Homo sapiens: one gene and its partners. The protein of the gene in region 1 purifies or fractionates together with the protein of each later gene. This does not show direct contact. Each region holds a gene or a part of one and is shown in the gene's direction. Other genes may lie near its edges.

Region 1 (3,500 bases):
GCTTTCTTGCTTTGAGATTTTTGTTTCGGTACTCTTTGGGAGAGAATTCCTAAGAAGGTTTTTAGAATAAAATTGTCCTCAACCAGATTGACTAATTACACATTATAACTACAACTTGAATAACATTTAAAGAGTTGGTTATTTCTGTTTGATAGGTTGGTGCTGTTATATGTCAAGGCTTTTTAAATCGGTTTTAAGAAATAAGCATTATTTTGGTGGAGGTAGAAATTTCACAACATTCATAAGTTCTAAACATCTAGAAATGGTTGGAGGAAACATTTTCGTTTTGAAGATAGTTTCATTAAGTAATCCCTGCTGTGCTCCTTTGCTTACAGAAAAAAATGTTAAAGATAACTCAAAATAGGATAGTTGGTGTAATTATAATTCTCCTTACTTCAGCTTTCTCTTCATCCTTTTTATTCTTTAAGCTTGGGGGAAAATGTTTGGATGTTCTCGTATCTTAAAACTGGAGGAGAGAGGCTGGGCGCGGTGGCTCACGCCTTTAATCCCAGCACTTTGGGAGGCTGAGGCGGGCGGATCACGAGGTCAGGAGATCGAGACCATCCTGGCTAACACAGTGAAACCCCGTCTGTACTAAAAATACAAAAAAAAAAAAAAAATAGCCAGGCGTGGTGGTGGGCACCTGTAGTCCCAGCTGCTTGGGATGCTGAGGCAGGAGAATGGCGTGAACCCGGGAGGCAGAGCTTGCAATGAGCCGAGATTGTGCCACTGCATTCCAGCCTGGGTGACAGAGCAAGACTCTGTCTCAAAAAAAAAAAAAAAAACTGGAGAAGAGAGATCACCACCTTAATCCCCTTCCCTGCTGGGCTATCACATGAAACTGACCTCTGAGGTTCTAAGCCTAACCCGCCTACCACTGTTTTTATTCATAAATACTTAAATCCTTACCTCTGGATCCCAACTGTTACTCTTTTTTTCACTTCAAAATTTGCAAACTCATTTCTATCCATCAAACCCCGGAAATGGCCCAGGGGCTTCACAGTGCAGTCCCCTCCCTCCTGCTGCATCCGTTCCTCAGGCTGTGCCCCAGGTTGCATTCGTGGTGCGTGTTTTCTCCCAGGGCAGCCTTCCCCACATTCCACTCTTGTCATACTGTTGACTCACAAAATGGAAGTGGCTGAATGTTCCAGGGATAGTGTCTAAGAGCTATTGGTTTAAGGTTGAAACCTACACCAAGTAAGGCTTTGTGAAGGGAGATGACGAGAGTGAAGTTGTTGACAGTCTGAAGGTGAAGAGATTCCGAGGCTCAGTTCAGCACCGGGACCAGACCCGCCCAGATCCAGGGTAATTTGAGGTCTGTGTTTGGTGCTGATGGTTTTGCCCAGTGCACTCCACACCCTCTCCTTCTTAGCTGTCTCAGTTCTCTTCAGATGCCTTTGTTCTAACTTATGCTTCCCTCCCTTAAGAAGAAACATAGTTACTTGCAAGAATAACCATGCTCAAAAGTTACAAGTTGGCTTTGCTTCAAGTTATATGGTCTCCTAGCTTTTTCTATGTGGTATTTCCCCCCACACATGCCGTTGTCCTTTGTGTCCGAAAATACAGCAGAAACATTTGTTATCAGCCTGTTACGGTTTTTTTGTTTGCTTTTTGTTTGTTTTTATTTTTACTTTTTTTGAGACGGAGTCTTGCTTTGTCACCCAGACTAAAGTGCAGTGGCACAATCTTGGCTCACTGCATTTGAACCGTCTCCCAGGTTCAAATGATTATCCTGCCTCAGCCTCCCAAGTAGCTGGGATCACAGGCGCCCACCACCGCACCTGGCTAATTTTTCTGTTTTTAGTAGAGACGGGGTTTCGCCACGTTGGCCAGGCTGGTCTCGAACTCCTGACCTCAGGTGATCCACCTGCCTCTGCCTCCCAAAGTGCTGGGATTACAGGCATGAGCCACCGCGCCCGGCCCAGCCTGTATGTTTAAAAGAAAATGAGTCTGTAACCATCATTTATAGAACTTGTAGTTGTTGCTGTTTGTAGCTTCAAGTCCTTTCTCAAGAGTAAGCTGCAAACTGCCAACAGCAATCAAGCCTGTCCTGCTGCCACTGCCCGGCCCCACTGGGCCACCTGGAGGCAGAGTCCCGCCCACCTCAGTGTCAGCTTGGGATTTGATTTGCCGTTCCTGTTTTTGATTGACCCAATTCAGCTGCTAATGATAATAATACTATTATTGTTATTGAGGGTTTACATTTGTTGGGCTCTTACTGCTGCACAGGAGGCATTGTGCTGAGCGTTTCCATTGTTAGCCAGTTTAGTCCTCATAACACAAGTCTTTGAAGTAGAAACTATTATTAGCCCATTTTTAAAAGGGGAAATTGCAGCTTAGGAAGATTAAACAACTTGGCCAAGTGGGTGGCAGAGGTCGACGTGGCACCGTGCTTCTCATTAGCATACCACACTGCCCTTTCAACACATAGCTCGCACCTGCCTTCACCCTGGAAGCAGGTTTACAGCAGCCTGTGTTGGTGTCTGGGTTGCCATTTACAATGTGCCACCATTAGGCAACACTGCTGGAAGTCCCTGTGCCACGTGTCAGGTCCGCCCGGGCTGGCTGTCGTTCGTCTCTGGCGTCTTTGCCAGGCCTCACTGTGGCCTCTGTCGACCAGGGATTCTAAAAGTCCACTTCCCATTTATTTATCAGCACATTAGTGAACAGGGAGTCAAATGTGATGACCAGTTTTCTTTCCAGGTTGCTGCCAAGAGTTTGCTCTTTTGTTTTCTCACCGCAGTTTGTATAGAACCCTCCCAGTGTTCATATCTAAAAATTGGCAGTGCTTTCACATGATCAATTCCTAAAAGCATGTATGTTTCCTAGAAGGTCTTATTGTGTGTGTCCCCAGGGTAGTAACTGGCATACCTGGGTGACTCAACCCAGACTCATGACTTTCTTACCTGTCTGTTCAGATGAGAGGCTCTTGCTGTTTTCTGGATGAGTAATCTCCGTCATTGCTGAAGGTGAGGAGCTCAGCTCCTTCCTCTTAAAGTGAGTGGAGGGCAATTAAGTAACGTGGGAAGTCACGATTCTGAGGGAAAAAAATTCTGTATGGAGGTTTCTCTTTTGCCCTTTAGCAGAAGCTCCGTGGCCTCAGGAAGGTCATTTAATCTCTCTGGCTTTGCTTCTTCATCAGTGAAATACTGTTCTCCATTAAGAATTTACCCTGAGGTGCCTGGTCATAGTAGTAACTGTAGTGTCTACCTCTCAGAAGCTCTGTGAGGGTCAGATGAGGAAGAACATGTAGAAAGGATTTCCCAACTGTGAAGCTCTGTGTGAATTGAGGGCACACAGAGCTTCAGTATTACAAAGCATGACCTATTTCCAATGTCTGTTTCAACAAACTGCTGGTAAGGTGGGTTATAACACAGGCATCAGATACTAATAAAGGTTTGTGGCAGAAACCTCCCTTCAGATAAAGGTTCAATCCCTTAAATTGCAGTTAGAACTTTCAGGAACCTATCATACCCTAAGCATCACCATGCTTTGATAAA
Region 2 (2,325 bases), on another chromosome or scaffold:
TAATTAAATTCAGAGGTTTTTTTTTCCAGCTCAATGGATTCACCAGGATGTCTCACAAGTATTTCCAGCCTAACATGTTTTATTTTGAACTCTTTGTCTGCCCTCACTGCTTTCCCATGCCCAGTATCCCTTTCCCATACCCAACATCCCTTTCTCCCAAAAAAGAAAAGAAAAAACTCTTCTCTGGCATTTATGACTCTTAAGAAATGTTGGATAAGACGCTCCTAATACATTTGCACACTCATTCCTACACAGTCATGTATTCATTTGTTAATAAGTTCTGACTTGGGTGGGTGTGGTGGCTCACGCCTATAATCCCAACACCAGAAGTCCAAGGTGGAAGAATCGCTTGAGGTCTAGAATTCGAGACCATCCTTGGCAACATAGTGAGACCCCATCTCTACAAAAAGTAAAAATTAGCTGGGTATGGTGGTACACACCTTTAGGCCCAGCTACTTGGGAGGCTTTGGCAGGAGGATCACTTGAACCTGGGAAGTTGAGGCTGCAGTGAGCTAAGATTATGCCACTGCACTCCATCCTAGGTGACAGAACGGCAGACACCCTGTCTCTAAAAAAAAAAAAAAAATGTTCTCAGAAATATTTCTCAGATTGGACCCTTCCTTTCCTATCTGATCTCTTCCTAACTTACTTAGGCTATTACAACAACCTTGTCTTCTTGCCATCACAGATTGTTACTTTTCATTCTCTGCCATTCTAGACAGTCCTTTACATTGACCAAATTTAATTATGTCTGTCTCTGGTGAATTTTTTTTACCAAACTTCTTTCATATAAAGCTCATTACAATCTAGCTCTCTGGTGAATTTTTTTTACCAAACTTCTTTCATATAAAGCTCATTACAATCTAGCTCTTGTTTACCTATCTAAGCTCAATACCTCCTGCTCCCACTCCTAACCTTGTTCCTTACCCTATATTCTAAACACACTGGCTCTTTAATGTTATGTTAATTTAATAGATCATTTTCTTTTATGTGCCATATGAAGGTTGTCTTCCTTGGTCTTGATCAAGTACTCATTTTTAAGACCCAGCCTAAATCTCGCTTGTGAAGCATTCCCTAACCATCTCCCTATACCACAGGCAAAGTTAGTTGTTTCTTTTTGTGGGTTTTAATAATCCTTTGTTCTTATTTCATATATAGCATTTATTTCATTTTATAATAGTATTTGTTATATAGTTGGCAGCAGTATTTGCTGAGGAAAAGGAATGGTTCAGAGATGGCAATCGTGTTCTTTTATTTTGAAAATGTGGCCAACTAGGAACAACTTTAATGTCTTCTGATTTTGTTCTTAAAATTCAGCCAAAAGCTTAATCTATAAATGTATTTTCTATAGGAGAAAATATGGAGAAGTCTTGTGCAAGCAAGGAAGAAGTCAAAGAAGTCAGTATTGAAGATACAGGTGTTGATGTAGATCCAGAAAAACTGGAAATGGAGAGTAAACTTCATAGAAATTTGCTATTTCAAGATTGTGAAAAAGAGCAAGACAACAAAACAAAAGATCCAACCCATGATGTTAAAACCCCCAATACAGAAACGAGGACAAGTTGCTTAATTAAATATAATGTGTCTACTACGCCATACTTGCAAAGGTAAACTTTTAAAATGTACCATGATTTGTTTTCATGCTTGGAGATAATAAATAACGGCATTTAAAAATCTTTGAGATAGCTTCAGATTACAGCTACCATTTATTAATATAGAAATTTCAGTACGGGCATGGTGGCTCACGCCTGTAATTTCAGCACTTTGGGAGGCCGAAGCAGACAGATCACTTGAGCCCAGGAGTTCAAGACTATCCTGGGCAACATGGCAAAACCCCATCTCTACAAAAAATAAAAAAAATTTTGGCTGGGCAAGGTGCTGTGTGCCTGTAGTCCCAGCTACCTGGGAGGCTGAGGTGAGAGGATCACTTGAGCCCAGGAGGCAGAGGTTGCAGTGAGCCAAGATCATGCCACTGTCCTCCAGCCTGGATGACAGAGCGAGACCCTGTCTCAAAACAAAAAAGAAAACAGAAAAGTTTTTAAACAAATAGAATGTCATTAGAACATTTCACCTCTTAAATACTGTATTTACTTTCCCTAACTATTGCCATTTTGAAAAAGAAAACTTTTATTTGAATTTACTTTAATCTGTGTGTTATTAATAACAGTAGGTTTTGGCTTTCAGGAATTAGCCAGTTCTACAGATACTCAGGTATCTACTGTATACAAGTTGTAATGACAAATTGAGAAAAGGATAAGTTTCTCACTTCGGTGAGCTTATAGTACCTCTCTAAAAGACAATTAAATGCTTTTACCTGCTTATAAC
Region 3 (3,500 bases), on another chromosome or scaffold:
CACTGTGCATAGACTCATGAGGGAAAAGTCAGCTTGTCTTCCTTGTTCCTTTAAACAAAGTATCAGATCTTGATTCTGCAGGCTTTTGTTTCATTGTAAAGAGAACTGATCCTCTGTGCTAGGAGAAAAGAGAAAGGCAAGGTCCCATTCCCTACCACTCCACCCTGGAGGGGGTCTCTGAAGCTTTTTCTAGGACTCCCATCTCAGGTTCTGCTTTTGATACAGGCTTGTTCATGTGTGCATGCTCTTAGGAGGGCACCAAGATGTGTTTTCCCCCTCTCCCTTTTCAGCCTTGCTAAGAATTCTATTGTAAATGCTGATTTGTGGGAGAAACTGCCTGAGCCAGCTTGCTGTCATGGCAACTGTACACCCCCGCCCCATAGCCTGTTATCTTCTACTCCAGTTTGGGTAACTACTGGTGAGCTGCATGATGTCTTACATTTCATGAGCTTCCTCTAAATCTAGTTGTATTTTTCGTCTGAGGGGGGTAAGTCATTTTACTAGCAGTGTCTCCTAGGTCTTGCCTGATAGCCTGACTTGCTCTTGATCCATGGCCTTGTTGGGTTTGTGAGGAGAAATGTGTGTTGTTACAGAGAACATCTATTTTTCTGGAAGAGGCAGAAGCAGAGAATACTTGTCTTTGTGGTGTTTTGAGTAGTGTAGTTAGAGGCACAAATGGTTTCTTAATGATTTCAGCTTATGTTGACTTCTCGATTTTCTTTGCCTGGTGGCTAGATTGTAGCCCCAGCCCTCTGCTTCCCTTCCTAGTCTCTTCAGCTTCTCATGTTTGTATGTGGAAGTTTTTGTGCCAGTCCTGATGGTTAAAAAGGAGTCTTTTGGTCTATATTCTTCCTCATCGGAGCTAGTGGCCCAGGCTGTTTCTATAGCTGCACCAACTCCTGCCTGCCAGGAAGAAATCAGGGTAATAGAATTCAGGCACAATCTGGGCTATAGAAGAGAGATCGTGTTTACCAGGCACTTGGATAAGCATCTGAACTGGGTGGTGTGCGGGGCATATTAAATTCTTGTATACTGTTGCAGTCAGGGTACCTCCCACCAGTAAAGGTAGCGGGGAGGCAGTCATGGAAAGAGGTTTTCCTACCATTAGAATTTATCCATCCACCTGCAGGCTGCCTCCTTCTTTCCTTGTTTCTTAGAGAAAACCCATCCAGGATGGGTTTACTTGGACTCTAACCTATATACTTCATTGTGAGATGGAGGCCAGGGGGAAGATTGTCGCTGTATTAGAGGGTGAAGCTAAGGGGATGGCTGGAGGAATAGAAAGGAGAAAATTCAGAAATTTGGAGGAATGGTAGTGGGTGTGGTGGAAATGTTCTTTCTTTTTTGTAAAGCTATCAAAGCAGATAATTTTAGCCAGAAGCAGCTCCTTGTAGCCAACTTAAAAAAGGAGTACGGGGGCACAAGTTGAAGGGCTGGTGAGTAGGCATCCCAACAATATTCCATTCTTTTGCTTTCCAGTCTGGAAGGCTATTCTGGAAGACATTCCCTTGGCTAGTTATTCTTCTGATGTGTTAGGGTAAAGTGATCATAGGAATAACGGTTTGAGTTAAGCAGCAATTAATAGGTAATCCAGGATTCCCTCTTTTTTTTTTTTTTTTTTTGAAATGGAGTTTCACCGTGTTGCCCAGGCTGGAGTGTAGTGGCGCAATCTCAGCTCAGTACAACCTCTGCCTCCCGGGTTCAAGGGATTCTTCTGCCTCAGCCTCCCGAGTAGCTGGGACTAGAGGTACGCGCCACCACACCTGGCTAATTTTTGTATTTTTTATTAGAGTCAGGGTTTCACCATATTGGCCAGGCTGGTCTCAAATTCCTGACCTCATGATCCACCCGCCCCAGCCTCCCAGAATACTGGGATTACAGGCATGAGCCACCACACCCAGTCAGGATACCCTCTTTAAGAAACCTTGCTTTTTTTTTTTTTTTTTTCCTGCTTTATGAGACACTTGAAAGGTTACTGAGGATGAGACATGCCTCCAAGCCAGAGCTCAGGCAGAAGGAACCCTTCATTGACTTTCTTTTCTGACTCCAGTGTGTTGAGGAATTTGAACTGAGTCCAGGAAGTGGGTGGTACTAACTCACTGGGCTGGGCAAGGAACTGAGTTTTAAAACACTCTTCCTGTGGAACATATGGGAGTTCGTTGATGGGAAAGGGAGGAAATATATATATATAAAGTTATGTCTGCTAGATCTTTTAACAGCTGAGCTAAGACAAGTTCTACCCTGCGAGACTCTGGCTTTTTCATGGTAGTCAACCCTGATCTTAATGTCATAGTTATTTCTTCTTTTCTCCATGCCTCTGCTTCCCTTGTCCATTCTTTCCTTCAAATGCAGGCTGAGGCTGAGGTGGCCTCCTTGAACCGTAGGATCCAGCTGGTTGAAGAAGAGCTGGACCGTGCTCAGGAGCGCCTGGCCACTGCCCTGCAAAAGCTGGAAGAAGCTGAAAAAGCTGCTGATGAGAGTGAGAGGTGTGTAGGGAAGCCTGATGGAGTGTGGATTTTAAAAGTTCATAATAGTTCTGATCAAGATTTCCTTATAGACCTGTTTTCTAAATAGCAATTCTGGCTGCGTGTGATGGCTCACGCCTGTAATCCCAGCACTTTGGGACGCTGAGGCAGGAGGGTGGCTCAAGCCCAGGAAGTTGGGGCTACAGTGAGCTCTGATTGCGCCACTGCACTCCTGGGTGACAGAGAAAGACCCTGTGTCAATCAGTCAATAAAAATAAAATACTAACTCCATCACACAGGATCTCCTTTCTATTCTGCATATTCTGTCCCCTTGAAGACAGTAAGGGTAACTTAGATGTTGTGACCCTTTTGTAATTGGTATTTCCTTACAAATTGGCCTAATGATCCTTAAAATGGGATCACCAGTATGACTTCTACTTTCTGGATCATAAGCTTCTATTTGTGAGATTAATTTCTCTAAAACAGAGGTTCTCTAAGTAAGGTCTCAGACCAGCAGCATCAGCAATACTTGGGAACTTGGTAAAAATTCACATTCTCAGCTCCTATGCTGATCTGCTGAATCAGAAACTTTGGATGTGGGGCCTGGCAATCTGTTTTTAGTAAGCCTTCTCAACGCTGGTTGCATTATTAGAATCATAGGTAGGGGTGAGGGGGGAAATCACTGGGGAATTTAAAACTGGATGCTTAGATCTCATCCCAGTTCCATTAGAATCAGTTGCAAGAGGGGTCTGGGCATTGATGTTTTTAAAGTTCTCCAGCTAATTTTTTTTTTTTTTTTTTTTTTGAGACAGAGTCTCGCTCTATAGCCCAGGCTGGAGTGCAGTGGCGCAATCTGGGCTCACTGCAAGCTCCGCCTCCCGGGTTCACGCCATTCTCCTGCCTCAGCCTCCCAAGTAGCTGGGACTACAGGTGTCCGCCACCACGCCCGGCTAATTTTTTGTATTTTTAGTAGAGACAGGGTTTCACCGTATTAGCCAGGATGGTCTTGATCTCCTGCCTTTGTGATCCTCCCGC
Region 4 (3,500 bases), on another chromosome or scaffold:
TTTTTAAAACCTTAAAACCAAGCAAAATGAAACAACACTGTTCAGGGAGAATAAATGGTAGCACTATTAGCAAAGCAAGGGAATTCAGGTCGTGTTACCTTTGGGGGAGAGAAGGTGCCACCAGTGAGGGCCCAGTGTGTTGAGGGGCAGCGAAATTCCTGATCTCTTCACATTTCCACTCCTCCATAGTAAAGGGTTTATAAGCAGGATATATATTGACTTGGTAGAACAGAGCTTTCATGTAATGAGAACAGTGACTGTTGTAGCATCCCTACAGTTAGTTTTGAATCTGGTTTCTATTCACATTTAAGCAGATGTTCCATTAGCAGAGGGGTTTATATTTGTTGCCTTGGTTGGGTACTTTGGATTAGAAAAATATTGTCATTTTTTTCAGTTCAAGAACAAAGGGTTAAAACCTTTTGTTCGGCTGGGTGCGGTGGCTCACGCCTGTAATCCCAGCACTTTGGGAGGCCGAGGCGGGTGGATCATGAGGTCAGGAGATCGAGACCATCCTGGCTAACATGGTGAAACCCTGTCTCTACTAAAAATACAAAAAATTAACTGGGCGTGGTGGCGGGCGCCTGTAGTCCCAGCTACTCGGGAGGCTGAGGTAGGAGAATGGCGTGAACCAGGGAGGCGGAGCTTGCAGTGAGCCGAGATCACGCCACTGCACTCCAGTCTGGGCGACTGAGCAAGACTCCATCTCAAAAAAAAAAAAAAACCTTTTGCTCCAAATTTTTGTTTCATTAAATCTACTGATGAGTTGAATGTTACCAGAATCTAGCTGAGAGAATTTAGGTTGGAAATGAACATCTGAAAACTGCAAAATAACAAATAGATGTACTTATTCATGGTTTGTCACTAGAGTGTTCATTAAAAGAAAAATCCTGCCGGGCACGGGGGCTCACTCCTGTAATCCCAGCACTTTGGGAGGCCGAGGTGGGCGGATCACGAGGTCAGGAGATCGAGACCATCCTGGCTAACATGGTGATACCCTGTCTCTACTAAAAATACAAAAAATTATCCGGGCGTGGTGGCGGGCGCCTGTAGTCCCAGCTACTCGGGAGGCTGAGGCAGGAGAATGGTGAACCCAGGAGGCGGAGCTTGCAGTGAGCCGAGATAGCACCACTGCATTCCAGCCTGGGTGACAGAGCGAGACTCTGTCTCAAAAAAAAGAAAAATCCTAATGACCCCTGAGGGTGTTAGGACACTTCATGTAGGAGTATTTCATCCCTAAATTAATAACTTCAGAATTATGCAGTAGTTCATGGTAAGTTGGATTCAAAGTGACATTTTGTTCCTGAAGATTAGGTTTTGCTGTAGCAATCGTAGAAGCCGGTCGCTGAGCTTGGTGTGGAAATGTGTAATATGTGCACCTTTGACTTTTTTCCTTAGTGTATTCCATCTTCATTCTTTCCTGTATTACTGACATGGGCTTATCTTTTCTCCCTTTAGAGAGTTTTGAGGTGACAGTCACCAAAGAAGGTGATAAAGGGTTCTTTCTTCCCCTCTTATGAATATTAACCCACTAACTTTGTTTATAAAATTGGGAATCAGCCCTTAAACAGGAGAAACTGTCATGCTCTTTTATCCTTATTTATTCTCCTACTTTGTTTCTATTTTAAAGTATATTGATGGAAATTGTATGTAACCAGACCCTTGGTTAGAAATATCTGGAAATCAGACATCCATTTGAACTGTATGGATAACACTGTACATTTTTGTTTAATAGAACTTCAGAGATTTGCTTTATAACAATTTTCTATTAGTTGGAATTGTGGAAGGAGTGCAGTCTTATTTTCATGTGAAATACATTTTGTGGAGTTTCACATCGACATCAAAACATTTATACTGTTCTCCCATGGACAAGAATGGAAACATAGATTTTTAACTCCTAATTAAGTTGTGAGCCAATTTAGATGTAGAGAAGTTCCCAGGCTGGTGTCTTTTTCAGGTTTGATAGGATAAAGTCCGAAACAAAGGCAAGTCTAGCCAGTCCCTCCCATAATAGAAACTGTGTCTGAATCGTAGATGATAAAATAGCTGTTGAAATGGATGCCTGACGAGTCGGTATTTCTACCTTTCTCATTGAGTAGTTTGTTTTGATTCCCTAATTTTAGCCAGGCTCATTGCACAGGAAGACTTGTTTCCTTTGATTTTTTTTTTTGACAGAATTTCTGTAATTACGGTGCTGATCCTATATCTCACGCTTCCTCCTCTCTCAACACATAACTGCGTTTTAGCTTCTCTCTGGTCCAAATCAAACTGGCTGCCAGCCCTCCCAGGAGCTGGGGCAGCGCTGGTGTTCTCAGGCCTGGCTGTGTGCTAATGAGACTCCTTTTACCCTCGAGCTATCTAAGTGCTCCTGTGGAATGCCTGTCTATATTTTCTTCTCTCTCTCTTTTGTATTCCTGCATGAATGGATGCAAAGTAAACAAGTTGCTTGGAAAGCCAGAATCTGCTTCATCTTACTAAAGCCCGAGAACTTCCCCATGTTTAAAACACAGTGCCCCTGCTTTGTCCACGGACCCTCCAAACCCCTGGCTGCCAAATTGTTGTCATTTATTTTCTTTGGGGGTGGAGATGGGGGGAGGAGGGCAAGGTGCAGAAGATCTATGTGGTAGGAATTCTTACCTGTTCTGCTTTGACTCCCTAGGTGAGATTTGTGGATTTAAAATTCACGGGCAGAATGTCCCCTTTGATGCAGTGGTAGTGGATAAATCCACTGGTGAGGGAGTCATTCGCTCCAAAGAGAAACTGGACTGTGAGCTGCAGAAAGACTATTCATTCACCATCCAGGCCTATGATTGTGGGAAGGGACCTGATGGCACCAACGTGAAAAAGTCTCATAAGTAAGTAAGCTGGACAAAGAGTGAACATAACCCACCGAGTAAACGTGTGTGCGCAGAACGAAAATAGTAGTGACTATTGCCTGCTCCCCAAGACTGTTTTTGAAATAGGCAGAAGATAGTTCTCAAGTGTCTACAATTAGATTGTAAACACTTGGAGGGCAGGAATCATGTCTCTCTACCCTTGTATACAGTTTCTAGCAAGAGCCTTGCTCACATTAGGCATATTAGGTTTTTTGGGGTTGTTTTTGTTTGTTTTTTGAGATGGAGTTTTGCTCTTGTTGCCCAGGCTGGAGTGCAATGGCATGATCTTGGCTCGCCGCAACCTCCGCCTCCTGGGTTCAAGCGATTCTCCTGCCTCAACCTCCCACATAGCTGGGATTACAGGCATGCGCCACCACGCTCAGCTAATTTTGTATTTTTAGTAGAGATGGGGATTCTCCATGTTGGTCAGGCTGGTCTCAAACTCCCGACCTCAGGTGATCCGCCTGCCTGGGCCTCCTAAAGTGCTGGGATTATAGGCGTGAGCCGTACCTGGCCTTTTTGTGTTTTGTTTTTGAGATGGAGTTTCGCTGTTTCACCCAAGCTGGAGTGTAGTGGCACGATCTTGGCTCATTGGAACCTCCGCCTTCCGGTTTCAAGTGATTTTTC
Region 5 (3,500 bases), on another chromosome or scaffold:
AGTCTCATTATGCTCATTTAATTTTTATTATCCGTATGTTGTCATATTTAGGTTATGTTCATTTTTTACCAGTTTTGTTAATCCCTAGTATTTTTTGTTTTTGAGACGGAGTCTCACTCTGTCGCCCAGGCTGGAGTGCAGTGGTGCAGTCTCGGCTCACTGCAACCTCTGCCTCCTGGGTTCAGGTGATTTTCCTGCCTCAGCCTCCAGAGTAGCTGGGATTACAGGCACCTGCCACCACACCCAGCTAATTTTTGTATTTTTAGTAGAGATAGGGTTTCACCATGTTGGCCAGGCTGGTCTCGAACTCCTGACCTAAGTTGATCCATCCTCCTCTGCCTCCCAAAGTGCTGGGATTACAGGCAGGAGCCACCGCACCCGGCCGTGTTTTTTGTTTATAAAAGAAAAAATTTCCAGAGTGCACTTTACTCCCTGATAGGAGACTAAATTACTTAAATATAAATTTTAGAAGGTACGTGTTAAATTAACCTAATGAATTAGTAGCATTCAGAAGTGTTTGTATCTGTTAAAGATTCAAAATATACAAACTAATTTCTTTTAATGGTGATTCTATTTCTAGTAAACTAAGGCAGAAATCATTATGCAGAAGAAACAGCACCCTGTTAACCATGTTCTTTTTATAAACCGTCTCTGTTCTCACTTTATTGTTAGGAAGGCGTAATCTGTTTTCATGTAATATAAGTACATGTGAGTCATGTTGAGTTTCTTCACTCATTTGTCCAATTCCCAGTCAACCTGTAGGTGGAGTTAACCTTTAGTTACATAATATAACGAAACAAACATTAAACCTACTGCTTCTGGGACAGTCTTCTCACCAAAACTCAGGGAAAATGGGAGGGTGTTGCCACTGACTGACTTAATGAAAGTATCTGACAAATGTAAGGTCTTTCAAATAGTGAGATAAGAAATGTATATAAATTATTTGATCGACTACTTACTTTCTATCTATACACACACACTATCAGTATATAATGTGTATTTTCATTTTATAGCTATTAAATATGAGGTTCTAGAATGAGTTTTCAGTTTGCAGAATTCTGAGAATCTAGTTCCAACACCTTTGAGAGGACAACAACCACAATTGCACTTGCCATATTTATTAGTCAAAATGAAGTGAAGTCAATCTGTTGAAAGCTTTGTTTTGTTTTTCTGATTAGTTTGTTTAATAAGACATTCAAATTATGATCTTTAATATAATTTCTTCCCCTAATAGCTTGGTGCTAACAGTGGTTTGCACATCATCATCTTTGATGAAATTGATGCCATCTGCAAGCAGAGAGGGAGCATGGCTGGTAGCACGGGAGTTCATGACACTGTTGTCAACCAGTTGCTGTCCAAAATTGATGGCGTGGAGCAGCTAAACAACATCCTAGTCATTGGTATGTTTACTTTTTAAAAAAGTACTATTCATTCAAAAACGTTAGCCATAAGTTCTGAATTAAGATGTGTGTAGGTTGTGATTAAACTGTTTTGCCAGTGTTTCCAAATTAGAATCCAGTGATATTGAAGAATCTATTGTAATGCCTAGGCTTAATAGGAAAAATAAAAGATGGATTTCAGTCACTTGTAGGTTTAAGCTTATAGCTCACCCACAGGTGAAAAAGATGTAGGTTGAAGCTTATAGCTCACCCAAAAATGAAAAATACACATGAAACAATGGAATGCAGTGGTTTTCAAACTGGGTCTTGCAGGCCTTCGGGGGTCCTCAGAGGTGCTTTCAGGGTCAGTGAGGGCCAGGGAGTGCGTTTCAGATCCTACATCACTATTATAACTTCCTCTTTTAGCTGTTTTATGTACTGAGGTGCTTCTGAAGATGACTTCTGGGGGAAAAAAAAAAAAAACACCCTGCTGTTTTATGAAGTCTGAAAACCACTGGCCTGTAAAAAAGAGAAGGAACTTTGGAGTCAGAGAGATCGTGTCACATTGCCCCTCTGTCACTTTGACAGATTATTTACCCTTTGAATCTTAAATTTTCTTTTTAAATACTGGAAGTTTTCATAACATTTATATTCCATTGGCTTATACAGTAGTGAAATAGTAAAGCAAAGTCTCCTTAGCTTGTTAGGGAAATTACTATTCTTACATATACTAAAAGGACATTTGATTTTATTTTTGAACTCTGATCATTTGTTGTTTTGTTTTAACATCTGTGTTCAGGAATGACCAATAGACCAGATCTGATAGATGAGGCTCTTCTTAGACCTGGAAGACTGGAAGTTAAAATGGAGATAGGTAAGGAGATCTGTCACTGATTGGGTGTGTGGTGGGGGGAGTGGAGGCATTTAGAGTTCATTAACAGGAACAATGTCATATGGTGTAGTATTTTTTAGAAAAGGTTTATATCATGAGAAGTAGATGTTTACATGCTTGAGTACCTATAAGGAAAACATTAGGATCATAATAATCTCCTCTAGGCTGGGCGCAGTGGCTCACACCTGTAATCCCAGCACTTTGGGAGGCTGAGGCAGGTGGATCACTTGAGGCCAGTTGTTCGAGACCAGCCTGGCCAAGATGGTGAAACCCCTTCTCTACTAAAAATACAAAAAACTTAGCCGAGTGTGGTGGTGTGCACCTGTAATTCCAGCTACTCGGAAGGCTGAGATAGGAGAATCGCCTGAATCCAGGAGGCAGAGGTTGCAGTGAGCTGAGATCGTACCACTGCACTCCAGCCTGGGAAACAGAGCGAGACTCTGTCTCAAAATAATAGTAATAATAATAATGATAATCTCCTCTGATGGTGCTTTCGAGACTAGGAAAATGCCTATTTTATTTTTAATTTCATCAGGCTTGCCAGATGAGAAAGGCCGACTACAGATTCTTCACATCCACACAGCAAGAATGAGAGGGCATCAGTTACTCTCTGCTGATGTAGACATTAAAGAACTGGCCGTGGAGACCAAGAATTTCAGTGGTGCTGAATTGGAGGGTCTGGTGCGAGCAGCCCAGTCCACTGCTATGAATAGACACATAAAGGTCAGGAAAATCAGCTAAACAGATTATAAACATTATGCCAGTATTCTTTCTCTTTCCTTTCAAGCATATCAAGGGGTAGGGAAATGCTGACTTTTGGTGGAGAAGAGATGGTAAAAGGAATAAGAATTAATTGTCAACTGCTAAATCTTCAGAGTAGCAGGAAGGAAGATAATGTTTGCATCTGCCCTGTAGTAACCACTGACTCATCTACCTTAGGTCATCACCATCTGACACAGACACGTAAAGTGAAAATTTTGAAGAAGTGTTTTTAAATCTTTGTATTGTATTAAAAGTTGTAATATGGCCAGGCATGGTGGCTCATGCCTGTAATCCCAGCACTTTGGGAGGCTGAGGCGGGCGGATCACAAGGTCAGGAGATCGAGACCATCCTGGCTAACACGGTGAAACCCCGTCTCCACTAAAAATACAAAAAATTAGCCGGGCATGGTGGCGGGCACCTGTAGTCCCGGCTACTCGGGAGGCTGAGGCAAGAGAATGGTGTGAAC
Region 6 (3,500 bases), on another chromosome or scaffold:
CTTTCTAGGGGCGCTCAGTAAGGCCCTTGCGTTTGGGGCACCAGCCCTGAGATAGTGAGAAGGCCCTGGCTGTGTGAGGAGTGCCAGAGGGAGGGACAGGTTCCGAGAGTGGACAGGCTCAAGAGCTTGGGTGGTTTCTAGGGTGGGGGAGGACAGGGAGCCTGTGGCTGGAAGGGGGCCCCTTACACAGTGGTGCCCACCCAGGGATGCTGCTGTACAATGGGCAGAAGCGAGTCCCAGGGAGCCCCACCAACCTGGCCAACCGGCAGCCCGACTTCATCTCCTTCGGCCTCGTGGGGGGAAGGCCCGAGTTCCGGTGAGACCCCCAGCCTCCCCACCTACAGGGGGACTGGACACAGGGCTTTGGTCTGGCAAGTGCTACCCTGGGCTCCATTATACAAAGGAGATCTGGAGGAAGGAGAAAATGTGGCCGTTACCCTTGGTGACCACCCAATCTGCTAGAGTAGGAATAGTATGCCAGTCAGGTGGAGGAGGGTGCAACCTCAGACTTGGGACTGCTGCAGGCCAGGATTCATTCATTCATTCATTCATTCATGCATGCATGCATCAGTTATTTGCTGACCACCCCATGTGTGCCAGGCACTGATACAGGTAAAACAAAACAGACCAAATTCTGGCTCTTGTGGGAAGAGGTGTATTCTCACTGGGGAAGAATAAACAAGCCATAAACAGAGAAACAAGGTGATCACAGGGAGAGAGGAGTCCTCAGAGGAACAAGGAGGCCAGGTGCTAGGCTGCAGGGCGCTGAGCCTGGGGTCCCTGTGGGCTGCTCTGGGAAAGCTCCCAGCAAAAGGATGTGGGGAGAGAAGATCCAGGGGATGGGTCACGGGGAGGGACGACAAGACAGGGACAGGAACGGGAACAGCCCCAGGGCTGGGACTGCAGGAAGTGGTGACATCCCTCCTCTGGGACCCCTCTACCCAACTGGGCCCCTAGCCCTTCTTACAAACCCCCTATCCACTCTCTCCTGCCCCGGCCTGCCCCACGGAGCAGGTTCGATGCAGGCTCAGGCATGGCCACCATCCGCCATCCCACACCACTGGCCCTGGGCCATTTCCACACCGTGACCCTGCTGCGCAGCCTCACCCAGGGCTCCCTGATTGTGGGTGACCTGGCCCCGGTCAATGGGACCTCCCAGGTGAGACCCAACCCCATACTGCTACTTCCAGCCCTCATCCCGCCCTTGCCCAGCCTCTGTTGCCATTCCTGACTTCCCCACCTCCCCAGGGCAAGTTCCAGGGCCTGGATCTGAACGAGGAACTCTACCTGGGTGGCTATCCTGACTATGGTGCCATCCCCAAGGCGGGGCTGAGCAGCGGCTTCATAGGTGAGCCCCCTCCCCACCTCCAGCTGAGGCTGGGCCTTACCTGGCTGGCTGGAAGAGCCCTGGAGAGCCTGGGAGGGCACCTCAGGGTATGGGCTGGGACACCCTGCCCTGTGCTCATCCTGCCCACTCACCTCCCAGGCTGTGTCCGGGAGCTGCGCATCCAGGGCGAGGAGATCGTCTTCCATGACCTCAACCTCACGGCGCACGGCATCTCCCACTGCCCCACCTGTCGGGACCGGCCCTGCCAGGTGACCCCACACCCCACACACCACCTGGCTGCCGTGGCCTCCACCCCTAGCCATGGCTGGCCCCTGTGGGGATTATGGGGGGTACTGAATGTTCTCGGCCTTACTTCTGGGGGCTGCTTTGCAGAATGGCGGTCAGTGCCATGACTCTGAGAGCAGCAGCTACGTGTGCGTCTGCCCAGCTGGCTTCACCGGGAGCCGCTGTGAGCACTCGCAGGCCCTGCACTGCCATCCAGGTACGCACCCCGACCGCCAGTCGCTGTCGCCCCAGGGCCTGCCTCTTCCCTTTGCTGCCTCCCCATATCCACCACCATCTCAACCACTGGGGCACTTCCACACCCCCCACTCTCACCTGAGCACTCTCCACTCCTCCCATGTACCCATCCCCCATCTCTGCTACCCGAAGGCCCTCACCCCATCACTGCTGCTTCCCCTCCTCCAGCCCTGCTGACCAAATTCTTACCACTACCCCGCCACCCAGGCACTCCCCCACCCCCAGCCCATCTTTTTTTTTTTTTTTTTTTTTTGAGACGAAGTTTCGCTCTTGTTGCCCAGGCTGGAGTGCAGTGGCACGATCTCAGCTCACTGCAACTTCCACCTCCCGGGTTCAAGCGATTCTCCTGCCTCAGCCTCCTGAGTAGCTGGGAATACAAGTGTCTGCCACCACCCCTGGCTAAATTTTTTGCATTTTTAGTAGAGGCGGGGTTTCACTACGTTGGCCATGGCTGGTCTTGAACTCCTGACCTCAGGTGATCCACCCACCTCGGCCTCCCAAAGTGCTGGGATTACAGGCATGAGCCCCCACGCCCGGCCCCCAGTCCCATCTTATTACCCAGGTGCCCACCCCATTACCCGCCACCAGGTGCTCCCCCTCCAACACTGTCCAGTCTCTGAAGAACCTGCAGACACACAGAGTCCCTCGACTGCTTCCCCTGCAGTCCTCCCTGTGGCCTCTTCTGGCTCCCGCCTTGCTCTGCTCAGTTCCCTCCTCCAAGGCCTCCCAGGAGGCTGGCCTGGCCCTCACTAGCCCAGCCCCCCGGGGTGTGATGGGCAGACCTCTGGCATCAGGACCCCCCTCCCTCCAGAGTCACCTCCGTGTCTTTTCACTGGCCTATGTGCCCCCCAGAGGCCTGTGGGCCCGACGCCACCTGTGTGAACCGGCCTGACGGTCGAGGCTACACCTGCCGCTGCCACCTGGGCCGCTCGGGGTTGCGGTGTGAGGAAGGTGAGGGGAGCCAGGCCTGAGACCCCCAGGGTCCTAGTGTCAGCTGGGGAGGCTGGGTGGGGCACTCTGAGGCCATGATGGGCCCTACGGATGATAAAACGATTCCCAAGCCAGAGGATCTCGAAGTCACCTGGCCACATGTCTGCCCAGCCTGAGCCCCTTATTGAGTGAGGGCCCCCAAAGAGGACCCCTGTCATATTGGAGCTCCTCCCAGCCCCGTGTGCAAGGGCAGGGGGGCTCCTGTGCCACTGCAGCTGGTGCCAACTGGTCCTGAGCCTCTGGGCCTGGAGAGTGAGGCAGGCAAGGGTCCCAGAGGAAGGCAGAGTAGCTGGACCCCACCCGAGGGTCCAGGATCCCCACTGCCTCAGCTGAGCTGTGGCTGCTGCAGGTGTGACAGTGACCACCCCCTCGCTGTCGGGTGCTGGCTCCTACCTGGCACTGCCCGCCCTCACCAACACACACCACGAGCTACGCCTGGACGTGGAGTTCAAGCCACTCGCCCCTGACGGGGTCCTGCTGTTCAGCGGGGGGAAGAGCGGGCCTGTGGAGGACTTCGTGTCCCTGGCGATGGTGGGCGGCCACCTGGAGTTCCGCTATGAGTTGGGGTCAGGTAAGCACCCAGCACCAAATGCGGGGCTCTGCACACCAAGCCTTGTGCCCCCCTCGGCTCTTCAAGCCCCAG
Region 7 (3,500 bases), on another chromosome or scaffold:
TTTCTTGATTAACACAGGGGGAGCACCTGGGGACCACGGAAGCGACCGAGGCCTTCTTTGCCATGACCAAGCTCTTTCAGTCCAATGATGTAAGTGCCTCAACCCAGCTTTCCTTGAGAGGTGGCAGCTGTAACAAGGTGGTGGGAGGGCCAAAGAGAGCTGGCCCCACCAGTCAGTGTGGGCTGCCTTTGTGGAGACAGGAGGTATCTTCTCCCAACTCTGGCCCTTGGTGAGCCCGGGCTGATAGGGCTTTTCCCACCTATCTCCCAGCCCACACTCCGTCGGATGTGCTACTTGACCATCAAGGAGATGTCTTGCATTGCAGAGGATGTCATCATTGTCACCAGCAGGCAAGTCATGGGGTTGTGGGTGGCTCTTCTGATGGGTTCCATTGACAGACCATTTTTTTCTTGTGTGTACCAGACAGTGAGACTTGGTTGCATATTGCCAGCTGCCCACCCCGTGGCAGCTTCCCTGTTACCACTGCCCACCCCATGGCAGCCTCCAGGTGTGCTGTTTCTATTTTAATTCTCTGACCTTGACTTGGACACAAATGCTTCCTTTTCTTGATTTCTCTTAGTCAACCAAACCAGCTTAGAACTTTCCCAAAGACTTTCTTGAGTATAAAGAGAGAACACAAGAAAAATAAACAAGAGAGTACAAGCGGTATACTGCTTACTAAGTGACTGGTGTCTGCTTTAAGCTAAGCAATTCAGGGACAGATGTGACTAAAGTGTAATCACTGCCCTTAAGAACTGGGGCTCAGTTCTCTTATTTCTTCCTGCCACAGTTTAAGGTTGTGGGGGTCATACATTGATTTGTAGGTTCAGTTAGAAAATATTGTCTGTCAGTCCCTGTGTGTAGCTCTGGGGATATAGCAACAAAAAAGATAGACATGGCCTCTGTAGCCCCAGAATTTACAGAGAAATAACCAGGCATCAGGCCATTAAGGTAGGGTGTAATATAGTTTATCACGGAAGTATTATGGGCTATGAGAGCAGACCAGAAGAGCATCCAGCTTGATTAGAATTACGAAAGTCCTCCCAGAGGAATGATCTAAGTGGAGTCCTGAAGGATGAGTAAGAAATAGTAGGACAGGACAGGCGCAGTGGCTCATGCCTGTAATCCCAGCACTGTATCCACAATGTAATCCACAGACTGCGATGGGTGGATCACTTGAGGTCAGGAGTTTGAGACCATCCTGGCCAACATGGTGAAACCCCGTTTCTACTAAAAATACAAAAATTAGCCAGGTGTGGTGGCGCACACCTATAATCCCAGCTACTGGGGAGGCTGAGGCAGGAGAATTGCTTGAACTGGGGAGGTGGAGGTTGCAGTGAGCTGAGATCATGCCACTTACACTCCAGCCTGGGTGACAGAACGAGACTGCGTCTCAAAAAAAAAAAAAAAAAGCCAGGAGTGATGGCTCATGCCTGTAATCCCAGCAGTTTGGGAGGCCGAGGCGGGTGGATCACAAGGTCGGGAGTTCAAGACCAGCCTGGCCAACATAGTGAAACCCCCTCTCTACTAAAAATACAAAAATTAGCCGGGTATGGTGGCATGTGCCTGTAGTCCCAGCTGCTGGGGAGGCTGAGGCAGTAGAGCTTGAGCTCGGGATGTAGAGGTTGCAATGAGCCAAGATCGCACCCCATTGCGCTCCAGCCTGGGCGACAAAGCGAGACTCTGTCTCAAAAAAAAAAAGAGTAGGACAGAGTGGAGGTGAGGGGTGAGGAATGCTACAGGCTGAGGAAACAGCACATGCAAAGGCTGGAGAGGAGTGAGCATAGCCAGTTAGGGAAGTTCAAGGAGTTACATTCAGGTCACTGGCAGTAGGAAGCTATGGAAACTTTTTAGCAAAAGCAGGGGGATGACCTGTTTGGTTTTGAGTCTTATGAAACTCCCTCCAGCAGCTGTGTGGAGTTAGGCTTGGAGGGGCAGGAATAGAGGGAGAGCACTGGTTAGGAGGCTCGTGTAGTAATCTGGGCAAGGGTGGTGTTGGGAGCTGGAGAGGAGTAAACAGGCCCAGGCTCTCTGCATGCTGACAATGCCTTCTTCCCTGCAGCCTAACAAAAGACATGACTGGGAAAGAAGACAACTACCGGGGCCCGGCCGTGCGAGCCCTCTGCCAGATCACTGATGTGAGTCGTGCCGGTTCCTCCCTGCTTCCTGGCCTCTTGATTGAGGCCTCGGCATCATCTTTTGCATTCTTTGGGGTGTCCCCTATCACTGAGCCAGGTGATGTGGGGTGGAGGCAGTGTGCAGGAGCACATGAGAAACGCTTACTTCCTCCTCATACTCATCTCTGCCCCCATTCCTGCACTCCTGAGAGCTGCCAAGGACTGACTGGATCTCCTTCCACCCTGCTCCTTTTGCCCACAGAGCACCATGCTGCAGGCTATTGAGCGCTACATGAAACAAGCCATTGTGGACAAGGTGCCCAGTGTCTCCAGCTCTGCCCTCGTGTCTTCCTTGGTGTGTAGTTGCTGCTGGAGCCCTGCTGGGGGTGGGGTAGAAAATTGAAGAAAATTTAAGAGTCACATTCCAGTAGGAAAAAAGAAAGTGTTTCTTTCTTTCTTTTTTTTTTTTTGATTGAGACGGAGTCTCACTCTGTCACCCAGGCTAGAGTGCAGCGCCACGATCTCGGCTCACTGCAACCTCTGCCGCCGGGGTTCAAGTGATTTTCTTGCCTCAGCCTCTTGAGTAGCTGGGATTACAGGCGTCTGCCACTGTGCCCAGCTAATTTTTGTGTTTTTAGTAGAGACAGGGTTTCATCATCTTGGCCAGGCTGGTCTTGAACTACAGACCTCATGATCTACCCGCCTCGGCCTCCCAAAGTGCTGGGATTGCAGGCGTGAGCCACTGTGCCTGGCCTCTCTTTCTTCTTTTTTTTTTTTTGAGACAGAGTCTCACTCTGTTGCCCAGGCTGGAGTGCAATGGCTCGATTTCAGCTCACTGCAACCTCTGCCTCCCTGGCTCAAGCGATTCACATGCCTCAGCCACCTGAGTAGCTGAGATTGCAGGTGTGCACCACCACGCCCAACTGATTTTTGTATTTTTGGTAGAGACGTAGTTTCACCATGTTGGTCAGGCTGGTCTTGAGCTCCTGACTTCAAGTGATCCACCCGCCTCGGCCTCCCAAAGTGCTGGGATTACAAAGCGTGAGCCACCGCACCTGGCCAAAATAAAGTATTTCTGTATCTGTAAGCCTGAGAGTCCCACCCTTCTCAGTGAAGACAGCCAAGAAACTCTGGGGTGATTGAAGAGAGTCGTGGGTGGATGGTGTTGACCCATGCCTTGGGGAGGGACATTGAGGGTGGGAGCATCCTGAGTTTGTCCATGGTCTCTGAGGACCAGGACAGTGGCGAGCCCCTGAGCTGTGTCTGAGGGAAGACCAGAACTGGGCCCAGAATGTGTGATGGGGACACTTCCTACCTGCCCCTTAATGTGTCCTGTTGCCCACAGCACCTGCTGAAGTGCAGCTTTGACGTGGTCAAGCGCTG

What was found.
Region 2: the proteins of INSIG1 (region 1) and CKAP2 purify together in Homo sapiens (affinity purification with mass spectrometry, with the first as the bait; one large-scale study listed by BioGRID). This does not show direct contact.
Region 3: the proteins of INSIG1 (region 1) and TPM3 purify together in Homo sapiens (affinity purification with mass spectrometry, with the first as the bait; one large-scale study listed by BioGRID). This does not show direct contact.
Region 4: the proteins of INSIG1 (region 1) and CLSTN1 purify together in Homo sapiens (affinity purification with mass spectrometry, with the first as the bait; one large-scale study listed by BioGRID). This does not show direct contact.
Region 5: the proteins of INSIG1 (region 1) and NSF purify together in Homo sapiens (affinity purification with mass spectrometry, with the first as the bait; one large-scale study listed by BioGRID). This does not show direct contact.
Region 6: the proteins of INSIG1 (region 1) and HSPG2 purify together in Homo sapiens (affinity purification with mass spectrometry, with the first as the bait; one large-scale study listed by BioGRID). This does not show direct contact.
Region 7: the proteins of INSIG1 (region 1) and COPG1 purify together in Homo sapiens (affinity purification with mass spectrometry, with the first as the bait; one large-scale study listed by BioGRID). This does not show direct contact.

The regions. Positions count from the first base shown.
Region 1 is NC_000007.14:155,304,378-155,307,877, forward strand, and holds part of INSIG1 (insulin-induced gene 1 protein), read left to right. Parts: intron 1-3,500. UniProt on the Homo sapiens protein: Oxysterol-binding protein that mediates feedback control of cholesterol synthesis by controlling both endoplasmic reticulum to Golgi transport of SCAP and degradation of HMGCR.
Region 2 is NC_000013.11:52,472,478-52,474,802, forward strand, and holds part of CKAP2 (cytoskeleton-associated protein 2), read left to right. Parts: intron 1-1,351; coding exon 1,352-1,607; intron 1,608-2,325. UniProt on the Homo sapiens protein: Possesses microtubule stabilizing properties. Involved in regulating aneuploidy, cell cycling, and cell death in a p53/TP53-dependent manner.
Region 3 is NC_000001.11:154,175,101-154,178,600, reverse strand, and holds part of TPM3 (tropomyosin alpha-3 chain), read left to right. Parts: intron 1-396; exon of another isoform or gene 397-487; intron 488-2,352; coding exon 2,353-2,486; intron 2,487-3,500. UniProt on the Homo sapiens protein: Binds to actin filaments in muscle and non-muscle cells. Plays a central role, in association with the troponin complex, in the calcium dependent regulation of vertebrate striated muscle contraction.
Region 4 is NC_000001.11:9,754,466-9,757,965, reverse strand, and holds part of CLSTN1 (calsyntenin-1 isoform 1 precursor), read left to right. Parts: intron 1-1,455; coding exon 1,456-1,485; intron 1,486-2,656; coding exon 2,657-2,852; intron 2,853-3,500. UniProt on the Homo sapiens protein: Postsynaptic adhesion molecule that binds to presynaptic neurexins to mediate both excitatory and inhibitory synapse formation.
Region 5 is NC_000017.11:46,691,669-46,695,168, forward strand, and holds part of NSF (vesicle-fusing ATPase), read left to right. Parts: intron 1-1,234; coding exon 1,235-1,400; intron 1,401-2,178; coding exon 2,179-2,253; intron 2,254-2,806; coding exon 2,807-2,994; intron 2,995-3,500.
Region 6 is NC_000001.11:21,829,311-21,832,810, reverse strand, and holds part of HSPG2 (basement membrane-specific heparan sulfate proteoglycan core protein isoform b precursor), read left to right. Parts: intron 1-204; coding exon 205-316; intron 317-1,014; coding exon 1,015-1,159; intron 1,160-1,248; coding exon 1,249-1,348; intron 1,349-1,486; coding exon 1,487-1,596; intron 1,597-1,720; coding exon 1,721-1,829; intron 1,830-2,719; coding exon 2,720-2,818; intron 2,819-3,206; coding exon 3,207-3,428; intron 3,429-3,500. UniProt on the Homo sapiens protein: Integral component of basement membranes. Component of the glomerular basement membrane (GBM), responsible for the fixed negative electrostatic membrane charge, and which provides a barrier which is both size- and charge-selective.
Region 7 is NC_000003.12:129,252,606-129,256,105, forward strand, and holds part of COPG1 (coatomer subunit gamma-1), read left to right. Parts: intron 1-17; coding exon 18-89; intron 90-270; coding exon 271-350; intron 351-2,062; coding exon 2,063-2,138; intron 2,139-2,379; coding exon 2,380-2,472; intron 2,473-3,462; coding exon 3,463-3,500. UniProt on the Homo sapiens protein: The coatomer is a cytosolic protein complex that binds to dilysine motifs and reversibly associates with Golgi non-clathrin-coated vesicles, which further mediate biosynthetic protein transport from the ER, via the Golgi up to the trans Golgi network.